2 separate regions of the Homo sapiens genome follow, and region 2 is linked to region 1. Evidence: fine-mapped expression QTL. Tissue or cell type: whole blood. Region 1 holds a variant in brackets; the other region holds the start of a gene. All regions are shown on one strand. Distances are between the middles of the regions.

What was found. PIP is the estimated chance that this variant, and not a neighbour inherited with it, causes the effect.
Region 2: it holds the start of FOXK1, and the variant in region 1 is fine-mapped to the expression of FOXK1 in whole blood (INTERVAL, PIP 0.90).

What each region holds. Positions count from the first base shown.
Region 1 is chr7:4,747,873-4,755,872 of GRCh38, reverse strand. FOXK1 (forkhead box K1) reads right to left here. Exons shown (of 9, transcript NM_001037165.2): 3 at 1,258-1,414; 4 at 490-636. Among named protein-coding and RNA genes, the nearest start is that of AP5Z1, 24 kb to the left of the region's middle. RefSeq lists a silencer at 1,681-1,975 and enhancers at 1,973-2,062, 1,567-2,121, 5,530-6,029. The variant G/T (reference allele first, on the strand shown) is at 3,608.
Region 2 is chr7:4,676,277-4,685,444 of GRCh38, reverse strand. FOXK1 (forkhead box K1) reads right to left here and starts at 3,150. Exons shown (of 9, transcript NM_001037165.2): 1 at 2,577-3,150. The coding sequence starts at 3,136. RefSeq lists enhancers at 1,766-2,293, 3,153-3,447, 3,649-4,149 and silencers at 2,850-2,919, 3,070-3,439.

The sequences.
Region 1 (8,000 bases):
AGAAGGAAACTAATAAAAAAGAGTATTTAGACACAATGGTATCACAGCGCTAATGCCTTTCAGATGTACCATATGCCATTCGTGAAAACATCCCTCTTTTATATTTATCTTCTTAGTTAAAAAGATATTTTTTTTCTTTGTAGACACAGGGTCTTTCTCTGTCTCCCAGGCTGGAGTGCAGTGGTGTGATCATAGCTCACTGCAGCCTCCACCTCCTGGGCTCAAGTGATCCTCCCACCTCAGCCTCCGAGTAGCTGCGACCACAGGTGTGCACCACCACACTCAGCTAATTTTTAGTAGAAAAGAGGTTCTCTCTATGTTGCACAGGCTGGTCTTGATCCTCCTCCTGCCTCGGCCTCACAAAATGCTAGGGTTCCAGGCGTGAGCCCCCTCACTGGCCCTCTTCTGTTTTAAGGGAAGCAATATGCCTGTGAGTTCCATGTTCTAAGGGCCTTCAGAGGCGATCCGGCCCTGGGGACTCGGCTTCACCTGCCAGCCTTTGTCGGCCGTCCGGTAGTAGGGGTAATGCTTGGTGATGTGGGCGTAGATCCCGCTCAGGGTCAGCTGCCGGTCCTGGGCGGAGGAGATGGCCTGCACGATCAGCTGCGCGTAGGAGAACGGCGGCTTTGACTCATCCTGCGGAGAAACACGGCTCACGGGATGAGCTCCAGCAAGGTCCCTGAGTCTACCCCACCCACCCGTCACAGCTGATGGGGAGGAACCTTCCCACGAGAATGTGCGCGTCTTGCCGGCACCCGTCCCAGTGCCCTCCAACTATCCCATTAATGTGCTTGCATTCAACTAGGAACAACCATTTTTGCCTCATGGGAAGGAAAACTTCGGTTTTATTATAATTTAATTCTGAAATTTCTCACCTCTTCCAGAAATCAATTTGAAAACAGCTATTGGACAAAAATGAACTAAGACAAAGTTATAAGGAGAACGCCATCCTGCTCAAGGGCTGTATGAAGGCTTTGACGCCGGGCTGCCAGCGGCAGATGAACAAGGAGCGTGGCGGGAGGGGCCCTCGGTGACGGCGCCACCCCTGTCACCAGCAAATGACCAACGGGGATGATTTGGGCACGAAAACGAGAAAGGGCCGACGGCTCTACCGCCAGCTGCGGCTCCATTCCCTGTGGGCTGAGACCACCTCGAGCACACGCCCGCAGGCCCTGGGCTGTCTGTGCCGCCCGCGCCGGGTCACTATGGCCCGATCCTGGGTCACCAGGTGCACCACGGCGCCAGGTGGGCTCAGACCTTGGGGCTGTCTCCTCCAGACGTGTCTGCCTGCTGCTCCGACGCGGCCTTTGCTGCAAACTCTGCTGCCAGCTGCAGGTCCGAGGTCACGTTCTGCACAAAGCGGTAACTGGAGGAGCCGGCACCGCGTGGACTGGCTGGGCAGGAGTTGGGGACACTGAGGAGAGAGAAGGACACTGTAAGTTCATGGCTCTGAAGAGGGGGCCCCTGTGGGGCTCAGGGCTTCAGGACCTACCCAGAGGGTGGGGCTGTGGGGAAGAAGCTCACACTTTCCAATTTTAAGTGCCACCACACTGCCCGGCCAAGGTCACGCAGCGGCGGGGACAAGATGCTGGAAACGGCAGGCAAGTTTCCTTCCAGTGGTGACTTCTGCTCGGGGGCTGAGAGCACCGCGGGCCCTCCTCCTGCCATTATGCAGGGCCCAGGGCAGCACCTGGTCAGGCAGCTCTGTGGGGCCCCTCCTCAGGTCCCCCCACACACACCCCTACAGGATGTGCACCCGGAGCAGGTAGCCTCCGCGGGCTGCTGGCTCCTGCACAGGTGTCCACAAGGCGGCGCTGTGGGAAAAGGCTCGGGCCCAGGACAACCCCGTGTGGTCACAGAGGCAGATCCTGGAAAGAGGCTGTGGAGGTGCCATCGCCCTGCAGGGTGAAGGCGTGGCAGGTGGCTCTCCTGGAGACACCGCCCTCGGGAAGAGATGACCCCTGCAGTTTTGCCCTGAGCCGCTGAGATGCCCCTGCCCTCATCCCCTCTCCCTCCCAGGCTGGAGCAACCACAGATGGCTGGGAGTGACCGACACCCCCGGCTGCAGGTGAGGCTCTGGGTTGAGGCCGGGACCACAGGCAGGAGGCTGCGTCCGTCCGGCTGAGGGGTGTGCTCTGGCCTGCTTCCCTAACTCACTAAGGCAGGCTTCCGTCAGCAAACCACGGCGATGTTTTGCTTCTGAAAATGATTTCTATTACAGGTATTCAGAGAAAGCCAATGAAGACACGAAGAGTGGGTGCAGAACCTCCCGAGAGAAAGAGATCCCACTGTCCTGAGCTCACGGGCACCCACCTAGCCCCGTCCTGAGATGGACCCTGCCCACCTGTGATGCTGACATCCCCCCTCTCAGCTGACTTAGAGCCCCCGTGGCGGGTAGGATGCTCCCTGCTGCACTGCCCTGCAGGCCACCCAGAACCATCCAGAACCACCCAGAACCATCCAGAACCATCCAGAAGGTCCATTCTCCTCCTCCCGCCTTGCTGCCCTTTCCTCTGCCAGGAACATCCTTCCCTAACTGTCCAGGCACAAGACTCCTAGATCTCCAAAACTTAGGTTAAGTAGGAGCCCCCTTGGGTGCAGGCGGGGCTCAAGAAACATTTTTTGGATGGAGCAGAGGAATGAATGAAAAAAATCCTGTGGCTGAGAAAAACCTGACAGCTGACATTAATGATCAGTTCAGGTCTGGGGCATTTTCAGGAAGGACTCAGTGTCACCCACATGGAACGTTAAGGACTCTGATCTGGAATTCCCATTCTCTCTTACAACGGACTCCCCAAATATGGCAGAGATAGGTAAGTTCCACACGTGTCGAAACTTAAATGAACACCCACAAATGGCTCGATCGAGGTAGGAAACAGTCAAAAGGAAACCTTTTCTGAATTTAGTTCTGAATCCAAAATACAAAACCCAAGTTTACAAGTAAGATGAGAAGGGGAGAGAAAGGTTTTGACTGGTAACAGCACACAGCCCCCAAAATCGGCTTTGTCAAAGGCCTCTGGGAACCAAACACCTCCCTGCTGAGGCAGGATGGCCTCATGGCCGGAGGGGCTGCAGACAATGGGGCCAGCACACGCCTGTGCACCCGGTCCCAGACCCAAAGCCACTGGACGTCCCCCTTGGACTCAGCAGGAAGAACTGAAATGTCAGTCCTTGCTGGGGACCACTGAGCCGAGGTGTCACTCACATACACTCTGATCTCCGGCCACAGGCTGGGGAATGGCCACTCAGCTCGGAAAATCTCATCCGAGGCCCATGAGGTGGCAGGCGGGCTCCTGGATCCTTCCTGAGGACCAATGAGGGGCACCCCCCAGCACTCCACAACAAACAGTGATGGCCCAGCACGTGTGGCAGGGACCTGCTCCTGTTCCCAGCAGTTATTTTGCAGAAGATCATAGAAAATTCATGTCTGCCGGGTGCGGTGGCTCATGCCTGTAAGCCCAGCAATTTGGGAGGCCCAGGCAGGAGGATCGCTTGAGCCCACATGGTCGAAACTAGCCTGGGCAACATAGTGACACCCCCATCTCTACAAAAATATTAACATTAGACAGGTGTGGTGGTGTGCACCTGTAGTCTCAGCTACTCAGGA[G/T]GCTGAGGCAGGAGGACTGCTTGAGCCTAGGAGTTTGAGGCTACAGTGAGCTATAATTGTGCCACTGCACTCTGGCGGAGCAAGACCCTGTCTCTAAAAATAAATAAATAAATACATAAATAAACAAAGTTTTAACATTTTAAAAATTAGCTGGGCGTGGTAATGCACACCTGCAGTTCCAGCTGTTCAGGAGGCTGAGGCAGGAAGATGGCTTGAGCCTGGGAGGTCGAGGCTGCAGTGAGCTATGATCACACCACTGCACTCTAGCCTGGGCAACAGAGTGAGACCTTATCTCAAAAAACAAACAAAAAACCTCATGGAGTAAAACCCACAGGAAAAGTTGTCATTCCCCAGAGAATGATTTCAAGTGGAAATAAGAAAGGTTGGCGAAGCCTGGCTCCCACAGGCGAGAGAGTAGGGTGGTTTCTCCGCCACTTTCCCCAGCACTGGACCTGGCCTGGGCTGCCGGATCCTGGTGTCACTCCAGCCGGGACAGGTACGACAGCGCAGCTTCTGAGGTTTTCCAGCCACCTGGGCTGAGGGACCACATGTGTTTGTTCACATGGCTCCTCCAGCCCTCGGAGCAGCCCGTCTCTCAATAAGCCCCATTCAACTGTCCTCCGCAGGCGGGCCTCGGCCACGGGGCTGTGCCTGGTACCAGGCTCCTGATACCAAGGCCCCCGATACCAGGCCTGCAGCTGACGGAGGCGGGAAGCAGAGGCTGCTCGAGCCTCACAGCCGCTAAGAGCTGTAAAGTGCCCTGGGGGAAGACAGGTCTGAGGGCGCCCAGCCAGGGTGGGATGGGACACCCAGCTCCAAAGCCAGAGGCCTTGGAGCCATCCGGAAAACTAATCAAGACATCCCATGTCTGATGCTGGGAGTCCACGGAAACATTCCCTTAGCAATCTAAAGAAAATGCTGGGCCGGGCACGGTGGCTCACGCTTGTAATCCCAGTGCTTTGGGATTGGTAATCCCAATGCTTTTGGGATTACCCGAGGAGGGTGGATCATGAGGTCAGGAGAGCGAGACCATCCTGGCTAACACAGTGAAACCCCGTCTCTACTAAAAAAAAAATACAAAAAATTAGCCGGGCATGGTGGCAGGTGCCTGTAGTACCAGCTACTCTGGAGGCTGAGGCAGGAGAATGGCATGAACCTGGGAGGTGGAGTTTGCAGTGAGTCGAGATTGCGCCACTGCACTCCAGCCTGGGCGACAGAGCAAGACTCCATCTCAAAAAAAAAAAAAAAAAAAAGTGCTGAAGGCCAGGCACGGTGGCTCACGCCTGTAATCCCAGCACTTTGAGGGGGCCGAGGTGGGCAGATCACCTAAGGTCAGGAGTTCGAGACCAGCCTGCCCGATTTAGAGAAATCCCGTCTCTACTGAAAATGCAAAATCAGCCAGACGTGGTGGTGCATGCCTGTAATCCCAGCTACTCGGGAGGCTGAGGAAGGAGAATTGCTTGAACCCGGGAGGCAGAGGTTGCAGTGAGCCGAGATTATGCCATTGTACTCCAGCCTGGACAACAAGAGTGAAACTCTGTCTCAAAAAAAAAAAGATGGGAGACCGAGGCGGGTGGATGACGAGGTTAGGAGATCGAGACCATCCTGGCTAACACGGTGAAATCCTGTCTCTACTAAAAAATACAGAAAACAAAATTAGCTGGGTGTGGTGGCGGGCACTTGTAGTCCCAGCTACTTGGGAGGCTGAGGCAGGAGAATGGCGTGAACCTGGGAGGCGGAGCTTGCAGTGAGCAGAGATCGTGCCACTGCACTCCAGCCTGGGCGACAGAGCGAGATTCTGTCTCAAAAAAAAAAAAAAAGTGCTGAAAACGACGGCATACACGTGCACACATTTCCTCCTGCGGGAATGAGAAAGAGCAGGAAGCTGAGGGGACCCCACTGCTCCCTGACAGGGACCACCAGCTCAATTCCAGGAAACAGGGAATCACTCCTTCTGGGGTAAGTACCCCAGGCCTCGGTCAGGCCCCCCCCAGTCCCTAGCTGCCCAGGTGTGGGACGCAGAGGCTGGACAGTGACAGCCCACAGACGTCGCGGGAATCAAACGCCTGTGCCCCCCGATTGGAGGCTGAGAGAGGGAAGAAGCACAGTAAGCAGCTCACCCCTAGGCCCTGATTTTGCTTCCTTTATATGGAGGACAATTCCCAAGTCACATTTCCGCCTCAGGCGAGAGAGCTGGAGGATTCTGAGTACGGGTCTCCCGGAGCTGTGCTCACAGGGACAACCCCATGCTGACCCACCCCGGGCAGCCTCCACCGCATCCAGGGGCCGGGCCTAGAAGGTGCCACTGGGACCACCCAGGACATGCCAGTGCAGGGAGACTGCAGAGGGACGGACGGGCTGTGGGACACACAGGTCGCTGGGTCACGTTATGATGAGAAGTCACGCTGAGAAAGGCAAATCCAACAACAGACCTAAAGCCACCTCTGGAGCCGCCAGCTGGGCTCCGTCCCCAGAGCCTAAGACAAGCCTTCCCCAGGGCACAGGGCTGCGGTCCTTCCAGTCCACCCTCAATGCCCTTGGCTCTGCTCTGAGGCTGAGAAGGCCACCCTGAGAGGCCTAGGGTCGGGACAGTTATCGCTTCCGGCAGGCCCAGGGAGGACAGTGCTCTGTCAGAAGGGACCTGATCCCTCCTGAAGCCCTAGAGACACAGAGGGACCCGCCTGGAGGGGCTGGAGGAAGGAGCTGCGACGGAGCCTTGTGGGCAGTGGAGGGGCGAGAAGGCTGCGGGGGTCTGCGATGACCTTTGCGTCCCAAGGCGGCACCTGAAGCCTCCTGGGGGAACCTCCCTGCAGAGGAGGACGCTTGGGGTCCCTGCCCCAGCCCCTGCTCCAATACCAGCCGCTCTAAGAGGGTTTTTAGGACCTCACTGTTAAACACAACAGCCGGCCAAGGCACATCTGTGGTTTGAGGAAGCTTCTACCAGGTGGAACATGGTGCAAAACAGAAGAGAAGAGGGACCCAGGGAAGCCTACGGGAGCTTGGGAGGAGATGAAACATGGTTCCCGTCCCTAGGGAGGTAACGATGCCGTCTCTGTAGGACAGTAAGAACAGCATGCAAAGCACACCTGCAGAGCAAGAACACGCTCTTCAAATTAAAAAATAAGAATTCAAAAGAAGAGAAATACAAATCCAAGAAAGGGTGGAAGGAGAGACTGGAGAAAATCCCTCAGAAAGTAGAGAGAGAAAGGAAAGGAGAGGCATGAGAGACTCAGCTCAGAGGCCCGCCAGGCACAGCCAGTCCCAGAAGCGTGGACAGGAACCTGGGGGTCCAGGCGAGGTGGCTCACACCTGTAATCCCAGCGCTTTGGGAGGCTGAGGTGGGCAGATAACTTGAGCACAGGAGTTCAAGACCAGCCTGGGCAACATGGGGAGACCCCACCTCTACAAAAAATACAAAAATTAGCCGGGCATGGTGGTGCACACCTGTAGTCCCTACTACTCGGGAGGCTGAGGCAGGAGGCTCGCTTGAGCCCAGAAGTACCAGCCTGGGCAACAAAGTGAGACCTTGTCTCTTAAATCAGTGAATAAATGAAAAGTCTGTCTCCTGTGCCCTTTCCCAGGAAGCGACTGGGGGATGGACTCTGGTAAAACAAAGGAACAAATCAGGAAAGAGGAAGACGTGGGAATCAGGAAACAGCCCTCTCTCCACCACCACCTCCTGAGGGGATTCCCAGGATGGTGGAGAAGATGATCCCATGGTCAGAGGGGCCCCAGAGGAAGGCCTTCACAGTAAAGGGAGAAGAGGCCATTATTAACCCCAAGAGCGGGGGGAGTGTGGCGGAAATAAGCCAAAAGTACAAGGAAGGAAATGGCTAAGCGCTACAATCACTACACAGTTCTAATACAGAAAACGCTCATGCAAGGTAAACCAGACATGATGATGTAACTTTACTGGGATGGGGAGGGGGGAAGCTAAATCCTTAATTTCCATATAGGAACCTCATGTGTAATATCTAAAACGGAAAAACCAAGAGACAGTCACGTACGAATACGACTCAGAGACACAGAAGTGAGAGAGAAGGGCTCAGCTCTGGGGAGCGTTGTGTGGGGGAATTTTCACTTTCTGAAATGTTTGCATTTTGTAAGATGCATATAGATAGATAGATAGTCTCTTCGTAATCTGAAAAAGGAAAAATAAACAAATAGGGAAAGAAAATTTTCAGAGGCGAATTTCTTAGAATGATCTTAAAGAATGTGTTCCTTTAAGATAAATCCGACATTGTAAAATGCTGGGAAGCTATTTTTAAAAATTAACTAGTGGATTGCTCCTGTAGTCACGGCTGAGGTGGGAGGATCGCTTGAGTCCCGGAGGTCGAGGCTGCAGCGAGCCGTGACCGGACCACTGCACTCCGGCCTGGGTGTCAGAACAAGA
Region 2 (9,168 bases), 71 kb after region 1:
CAGGAGATCGAGACCATCTTGGCTAACACGGTGAAACCCCATCTCTACTAAAAATACAAAGAATTAGCTGGGCGTGGTGTTGTGCGCCTGTAGTCCCAGCCACTCAGGAGGCTGAGGCAGGAGAATCTCTTGAACCCGGGAGGTAGAGTTTGCAGTGAGCCACTGCACTCCAGTCTGGACAACAGAGCGAGACTCCATGACAGAAAAAAAAAAAAAAAAAAAAGCAAATAGCTCTTTTCTAGGAGGGTGGACATGGACATCCACTTAATGTTTTTCCTTCTGCACATTTGCTTTGTTCTTGTAAATTTTACATTGCTGCCTACATAGATATTGCTCACATGTGCAGGTGAAGTCAAATAAAAACAGACAGGCGCAGTGGGCCAAGCACTTCACGCACATCTAATGCACCAAGTCAGCGGGCGGGCATCTGTGTAGCCTGACAGCCCCACCACAATGCCTGGTAATGCACCCACCGAGAACACGAGCTCCCTGGAGCATAAATGTGCAAGGACTGTATACACCGATAACATTTCATAAATAACAGGCTTGCTACTGGCCTATTCGTAGACGATCTGAGGTTGAAATTTTTTCCCCTTGAATTACAAAAAAAAAATACCGTGAAAGCCTCCTTCAAGATTCACTAAAGCTGGGCCTGACTCAGGAGTGCACCTGTTTCCACGGCAGGGGCAGGAAACCTGAAAACAAGACTTTAATGGAAGTACTTAGTGAACCTGAGTTATATAAAGGTGCGTCTGTAAAGCAGGCCTCTAAGGGGGGCCTGGGGAGCCTACCTGTCATTTTCTTACTGGAGGGGAGAGTGGCCAGGAAATGCATTTAATGGCCCCAAACGGAGAGAGTGTATTGGTTATGGAAGAGAGAGAACACACTAATATCTGAGGCAAAGAACAAATTTGTTATCTCCTGAGTTCTGATTTTACCAAAATGCACACCTTTCAGCACGGTTAGAAAAAGGTATACTTCCCCTCTCACGCCCCAAGGGGGAGTGAGTCATTGTTGATGTTGCATTTTAAATTATTCAATGCGATATCTGTAACCAAACATGCCAAGACTAAAAAAGGGGAGAAGTTTACAGACACAAACTTTGGGCCCTGGGAATTACCCCAGCAAAAATTCCCCAGACGCAAGGCGTTTATAAAAGGGAGTAATTAGACAGACAACCCTGAACAAGAACCACATTGAAGAAATATAAACACTGGTGATGAGTTAGAGGCAATCACTAAATAGAAAAAGAAAGTGGCTCCAGAGGAAATGAGTAATTAAACAGGCTTTCTCCTGATCAACAGACCTTGAGGTCCGGGGCAGAGCAGAGGGTGCGGAGGGCAGTGGAGCTGGAAAGGAGGGAACCGGAATGGGCGGGAGGTGACCACGGGATGCTACCAAAGGCACCGACAGGCCTGGGCAGCCGTCCAGGCCCAGCTGGGTCTCTCTGCCCTGGTGACCTCGGGCCCGGGGGAATCTAATTTGATCTTGGGGTCCCGCTACTCCATCCAAGGAGCACTAGTTGGGGATGTAAACTGAGGCACAGGCTTCCTGTCCTCGCCCCTCCCCGCCAGGCCTCTGCTCCTTCAGCACAGCCCACACTCCTAGGGACCTCGCACTTCCCGGAGCAACACCCTCCCACTGTCCTGGGTGAGTGTGTTGGGGTCCCCCAGGACCCAGACTGGATGGGGTGGGGGTGGCCCAAGGGTCCAGACCAGACAGGGTCAGGGGTAGCCACTGGGGTCCAGGACGGCAGGCATCAGGCACTGGGGTGACTTGAGGCCCTGGCTGGTGGGGGTCGGGGGTGGTCCTGAGAACCAGGTCAGGCTGGGGTGACCCTGGAGTCCAAGCTGGTGGGGGTCCAGGGTGACCTGGAAGGGTTGAGGGTGATCCCCAGGCCCAGGCAGCAGGGACTGGGGTCAAGGTGACCTCAGTAACCCAGCTGGGTGGAGCTGGGGTGGGAGTGGCCCTGCGAGCCCAGGCTTGTGGGGTTAGCGGTCAGGGGTGACTCCGGGGGGGCCTAGGAAGTGGGGGTCGCGGTTAACCTTGCGTGTTTAGGCAGGGTAGGGACGTAGATGACCCCAGGGATCCAGGCCAGTGGGAGTTCAGAATGACCCCGGAGTCCAGGCCGATGGGAGCTGGGGAGCAGCAGGGATCTGGGTCAGGGGTCTAAGAGGCCCAGCCAGATGGGCTTGGGGTATGGGTGGCTCCAGGAGCCCAGGCCGGTGGGAGATGAGGTCAGGGGTGACCCCAGGAGCCGCAAGGTGTGGGTCAGGGCTGACCCCAGAGTCCAGGCCGGTGGGGGTCGGGGGCGACGGGGTATCCAGACCGGGGAAAGTGGAGGAGATCCTCAGGCTGGAGCCTCCAGGATCGGGGTCGGGGTGATCCTAGGGAGCCAGGAGGCGGGGGTCGGGGTTGACCCCGGAGTCCAGGCCGGTCGGGGGTTACCGGGGGTGGGCCGGGGGGTGGGGGTCGAGGCCGAGGAAGCTGGAGGGGGATCCCCAGGCCCGGGCCTCAGAGATCGAGGTCGTGGGCGAGCCCCGGGTGCGGGCGGCGGGGGTCGCGGGGCCACTCACTGCTTGGGCAGCTGCAGGGCGGGCGCGCCGCGTCTCTGGAAGGCCCCGTCCACGAAGACGCCGTTCTTGCCGAGGCAGCGCAGGTAGAAGTGCGGCTCCTGGAAGCTGAGCTGCAGGTGGCGCCGCGAGATGAAGCTGGACAGGCCCATGCTCAAGTCCACCGAGCCCTGCGACGAGTTGCGGCCGATGGTGACGCTGGGCTGGCGCATGAGGAACTCGAACTCGCGGCCCTCCAGCCGCGCCAGCGCCGGCCCCGGGCTCTGCCGTACCGAGGCGGCCGCCGCGGCCACCAGGGCCGGCGCCGCGCCCGCGACCGCGGAGTCCCCGGATACCCCGGAGGAGCCCCCGGAGGAGCCCGCGCCCGCGATCGCGCCCGGAGGCAGCGGCGGTGGCGGCGGCGGCGGCGGCCCGGGCGGAGGCTGGGGCTGCGCGGGGGCCGGCGGGGGTGCGGCCGCGGGGAAGGCGGCGGCGGCGGCTGCGGCGCACAGCACTGGGCTGCAGGGCGCCGAGCGCAGCGCGAGCAGGGCGCGGGCGCCGCTGTCCTCGCCGACTTCGGCCATGTTCGCGCGGCTCCGAGCGGCCTCCGGCGGCGGCGGCTGCAGCGGCGGCGCGGGGGGCGGGGAGGTCGGGGCGCTGGGCGGGCGCGGAAACCCGGGCCAGATCGCGCCGGCGCGGAGCGGAGCCTCCCAGCCCACCGTGCGCCTCGCCTCGCCCGCCCGCCGGTCCCGCCCAGCGTAGCCCACGTGGCGCGCGCCAGCGCGGGGCTGGGGGCGAGGCCTGTGCCGGGAGGGCCGGCGGGCCCCCGGGAGAGCTGGGCCCGGCGCACCTCGTCCCCTCCCCGCGGGGCTGCAGGCGGCGGGCGCCCTTTCCTCCATCCAGGGGGAAGAGGGGACCCCTGAAATGCCCAGCCACAAAGTTTTGAGCCTGGGTCATTGGAGAAAGGGACGGATGACCTCAGCAGTCTCCCCGCCCCAGACACTCCAGGCCCCCAACCCTAAAGTGTAAGATAGACAGAAGATAAAATATATGTGTATTATATACAATACATATGTTTATATTCTAACCTCGCTCTGTCGCCCAGGCTGCAGTGCGGTGGCAAAATCATAGCTCACTGCAGCTTCCACCTCCTGTGCCCAAGTCACCCTCCTGCCTCTGCCTCACAAGTGCCACCACGCCCAGCTAATTTTTTTACTTCTTATAGAGACAGGGTCTTGCTATGTTGGCCAGGCTGGTCTCAAACTCCTGGTCTCAAGTGATCTATCTATCTCGACCTCCCAAAGCACTGGGATTACCCGTGTGAGCCACAGTGCCAGGCCTGATCATTCTTAAGCCCTCAGATTAAAGGTCATCATACTCTACTGTAACTGAAGACCACTTGAGATCCATCCCTGAATCCCTGATCCATCCTTCCTTCCTTCTTTCCTTCCTTCCTTCCTTCCCTTCCTTCCCTTCATTCCTTCCCTTCCCTTCATTCCTTCCTTCCCTCCCTTCTTTCCTTCCTTCCTTCCTTCCCTTCCTCCCTCCCTTCCCTTCCTCTCCTTCTTTCCCTTCCCTTCCTTCCTTTCCTTCCTTCCTTCCCTCCCTCTCTTCCTTCCTCCCTCCCTTTCCTTCCTTCCTTTCCTTTCCTTCCTTCCTTTCCTTCCTTCCTTCCCTCCCTCCCTTCTTTCCTTCCTTCCTTCCCTTCCTCCCTCCCTTCCCTTCCTCTCCTTCCTTCCCTTCCCTTCCTTCCTTTCCTTCCCTTCCTTCCTTTCCTTTCCTTCCTTCCTTCCTTTCCTTCCTTCCCTCCCTCCCTTCCTCCCTCCATTTCCTTCCTTCCTTTCCTTCCTTCCTTCCTTCCTCCTTTCCTTCCTTCCTTCCTTTCTTTCTTCCCTTCCTTCCTTCCTTCTTTTTTTTTTTTTTTGAGACGGAGTTTCGCTCTTGTTGCCCAGGCTGTAGTGCAATGGCGCAATCTCGACTCAACGCAACCTCCACCCCCTGGATTCAAGCAATTCTCCTGCCTCAGCCTCCCAAGTAGCTGGGATTACAGTCATGTACCACCAGGCCCGGCTCATTTTGTATTTTTTTAGTAGAGATGGGGTTTCTCCGTGTTGGTCAGACTAGTCCTGAAAACCCGACCTCAGGTGATCTGCCCGCCTCAGCCTCCCAAAGTCCTGGGATTACAGGCGGGAGCCACCGTGCCCGGCCGCCTGCCTGCCTTCCTTCCTTCCTTCCTTCCTTCCTTCCTTCCTTCCTTCCTTCCTTCCTTCCTTTCTTTCCCTCCCTCCCTCCCTTCCTTCCTTCTCTCTCTTTCTTGTCTTTTTCTTTTGAGACAGGGTCTCACTCTGTCACCCAGGCTGGAGTGCAGTGGTACAATCATAGCTCACTGCAGCCTCAACCTTCAGGGCTCAGGTGATTTTCCCACCTCACCCTCCCAAGTAGCTGGGACTATGAGCCACCATGCCCGACTAATTTTTAATTTTTTTTTTTTTTAAGGCAGAGTCTTAATCTGTCACCCAGGCTGGAGTGTAATGGTGCAGTCTCGGCTCACTGCAACCGATTCTCCTGCCTCAGCCTCCCAAGTCGCTGGGATTACAGGCATCTGCCACCACACCCAGCTAATTTTTGTATTTTTAGTAGAGACGGGGTTTCAACCATGTTGGTGAAGCTGGTCTCAAACTCCTGACCTCAGGTGATCCACCTGCCTCGACCTCCTAAAGTGCTGGGGCTGCAGGCGGGAGCCGCCTCACCTGGCCTTTTTCAATTTTTTTATAGAGACAGGGTCTCATTATATTGCCCAAGTTGGTGTTCAACTTTGGGGCTCAAGCAGTCTGCCACCTCAGCCTCCCCAAATGCTGGGTTACAGGCGTGAGCCACCACGCCCAGCCTATCTCTCTTTCTTTCTGGAGCCCTTCACTCATTCAATATGCTAGATCCAGCTAAGACAGATCTGAGAGAATGCCCCAGAGAGAAATCTTAGCTGAAAACAGGGAGTGGCAAACGTGGGCATCATTGGGATCCCTTTCGGACTTCAGTAGCCTGGTCCTCCATTGCCAGTTCAGGTTCCCCTAAAAAGGCGGTGCAGTTTCCACATTTCCCTCATTTACGAATTATTAAGGGTGGGAAAGGAGACACAGTTCCCTCCCTGGTGGAGCTTATAGTTGAGGGGGAGATGCAGACATAAATCAAAGACACATCCTAGAAAAAGTAAAATCAAGTCACAGCTGTGATACATCCGGTGAGGGACTGGTGCATGGTGACGTGCAAGTGTAAACGAGAGACTGGGCCTGTCTAAGGCAGGAGCTTCCCTGACCTGCACACCCACGCTCCAGTCTGGGGCTGAAATAGGTATTAATCTCATCTCTCAGCCTTGAATATGTGCATGCAGAGATAAGTGTTTGGGAGGCAAGGAAAGCTTTTTTTTTTTTTTTTTTTTTTTTTTTTTGAGACAGAGTCTCGCTCTGTTGCCAAGCTAGAGTGCAGTGGTGCGATCTCGGCTCACTGCAACCTCTGCCTCCAGGGTTCAAGCAATCCTCCTGCCTCAGCCTCCCAAGTAACTGGTACTACAGGTGTGTGCCACCATGCCCAGGTAATTTTTGTATTTTTAGTAGAGATGGGGTTTCACCAGGTTGGCCAGGGTTGTCTCGATCTCTTGACCTCATGATCCACCTGCCTCGGACTCCCAAAGTGCTGGGGTTACAGGCGTCAGCCACCGTGACCGGCCAAGGAACGCATTTTTAGCAGGAGCAGTAACTTGAGTACCTGCTTGATTGAGGTGGGGGGGATGGTAAACAGAGTCAGGGGGCTCCTCCTTGAGGTCTAAGGGATGCCTGATTAGGGAAGTGGTGTGAGACTGTGAGGGTAGTGCCCCTGCCAGGGAACTCTGTGTGATACAGAAGGAAGTATGGGCCGTGGAGGGGTAGGCAGGTGGTCACTGTGTGTGGAACCGAGTGGCCATGTTCAGCTGAACCAGGAGGGAAGAAGGGCTGAGGTGGGTCCTATAGGATCTGGGGCTGATCCTAGAGCAATGGGAAGCCACTGAGGGGCTTTACGTGCAAGACAGCAGGCACACCGACATGCAGTATCTGAAATGCAATCACTCTAGCGGCCATGGGGATCCTGAACTGGAAATAGGTCAGAGTGATGGCGGAGGTTGCTCAGGAAGCTGGAGACCAGCGAGAGAGGTGAAAGGAGAGAGGTGCAGAGAAGCAGAGGGATGCAGGAGATACTGATTTCCTGCAAAGGCATTTACACACACTGTTGGTGGGAATGGAACACAGGGCAGCCTCTGTGGGAAACAGCATGCAGGGTCCTCAAAAAGTTAAAACGAGGCCGGGCCCAGTGGCTCTCACCTGTAATCCCAGCACTTTGAGAGGCTCAGATGGGTGATCACCTGAGGTTAGGAGTTTCAGACCAGCCTGGCCAACACGGTGAAACCCTGTCACTACCAAAAATACAAAAAAATGAGCCAGGCGTGGTGGTGGGCACCTGTCCCAGCCGCTCGGGAGGCTAAGGCATGAGGATTGCTTGAACCTGGAAGGCAGAGGTTGCAGTGATCTGAGATCATGCCATTGCGCTCCAGTCTGGGTGACAGAGCGAAGCTCTGTCTCAATAAATAAACGAATAAATAAATAAATAAACAAACTAGAGTTCCCATAAGATGCAATGCAGACTTCCACTTCTGGGTTTATACCCCCAAAGAATTGCAAGCAGGGTCTTGAAGAGATACTTGCATGCTATGTTCACAGCAGCGTTATTTATTCACGAGATCCAGAAGGTGGAAGCAATCCAAGTGTGCGTTTACCCCTGTGGTACCACATACAGTGGGGTATGATTCAGACTTGAAAAGGAAGGAAACTCTGACATACGTGACATGTGAAGTGATGAGCTTTGAGGACATTATGCTCAGTGAAATAAGCTGGTCACAGAAAGACAAATGTGATGTGATTCCACTTCTATGGGGTCCCTTGGTCAGTAAGATTCATAGAGACAGAGGGTAGAATGCTGGGTGCCGAGGACTGGGAGAGGGGAGACCGGGAGTTACTGTGGAATAAGGACAGAGTTTCTGTTGGGCAAGATGAGAACATTGTGGAGGTGGCTGATGGTGTTGATTGCACAGCACTGGGAATGTGCTTCATGCCACTGATCTGTGCACTTGAAAATGGTTCCGACGGCCGGGCGCGGTGGCGCATGCCTGTAATCCCAGCACTTTGAGAGGCCGAGGCAGGCAGATCACTTGAGCTCAAGAGTTTGAGACTAGCCTGACCAACATGGTGAAACCCCATCCCTACTAAAATACAAAAATTAGCTGGGCGTGGTGGTGTGCGCCTGTAATCTCAGCTACTCAGGAGGCTGAGGCAGGAGAATCACTTGAACCCAGGAAGCAGAGGTTTTAGTAAGCCAAGATTGCGCCACTGCACTCCGGCCTTGGAGACAGAGTGAGACTCGGTCTCAAAAAAAAAAAAATACGGTTAAGACGTTAAATGTTATGTTATGTGTATTTTACCACAATTGTAAAGAGAGAGATTTACATACAACCTCCTCATACGGTCTCTTCCTTTGGACTCCTTGAGATGACTTCTGACTTCTTAATGACAGATTTATTTAATGACAAGAGGCATGTATGTACTTCCAGGCACCATAGGCCTAACAATATTAAATGTAAATAATTGTAGGCTGGGCGTGGTGGCTCACGCCTGTAATCCCAGCACTTTGAGAGGCTGAGGCGGGAGGATCACCTGAGGTCAGAAATTTGAGACCAGCCTGGCCAACATGGTGAAACCGCGTCTCTACTAAAATATAAAAATTAGTCGGGCATGGTGGTTGGCACCTGTAATCTCAGCTACTCAGGAGGCTGAGGCAGGAGAATCACTTGAACCTAGGAAGCAGAGGTTGTAGTGAGCTGAGATTGCGCCACTGCACTCCAGCCTAGGCGACACAGCCAGACTCCATCTCAAAAAAAAAAAAAATTGTAGACTAGGCGAGGCGGCCCATGCCTGTAATCCCAGCACTTTGGGAGGCCGAGGTGGATAGATCATTTGAAGTCGGGAGTTTGACACCAGCCTGAGCAACACAGTGAAACCCTGTCTCTACAAAAAATACAAAAAATTAGCCAGGTGTGGTGGCGCATGGCTGTAATCCCAGCTACTTACGGGACAGAGGCTGGAGGATCACTTGAGCTCCGGAGGTCGAGGCTGCGGTGAGCAAGATCGCCATACCACTGCACTCCGGCCTGGGGGACAGAATGAGACCCTGTCTCAAAAAAAAAAAAGAAAAAAGAAAAGAAAAGAAAGAGGCTGGGCATGGTGGCTCAGGCCTGTAATCCCAGCACTTTGGGAGGGTGAGGGGGGACAGATCACGAGGTCAGGAGATCAAGACCAGCCTGACCAACATGGTGAAACCCTGTCTCTACTAAAATACAAAAAAATTAGCCAGGCATGGTGCCGTGCACCTGTAGTCCTAGCTACTTGGGAGGCTGAGGCAGGAGAATCGCTTGAACCGGGGAGGCAGAGGTTGCAGTGAGGTGAGATCGCGCCACTGCACTCCAGCCTGGCGACAGAGCAAGACTCCGTCTCAAAAAAAGAAAGGAAGAAAGAAAGAATTGTGCACAAACTGA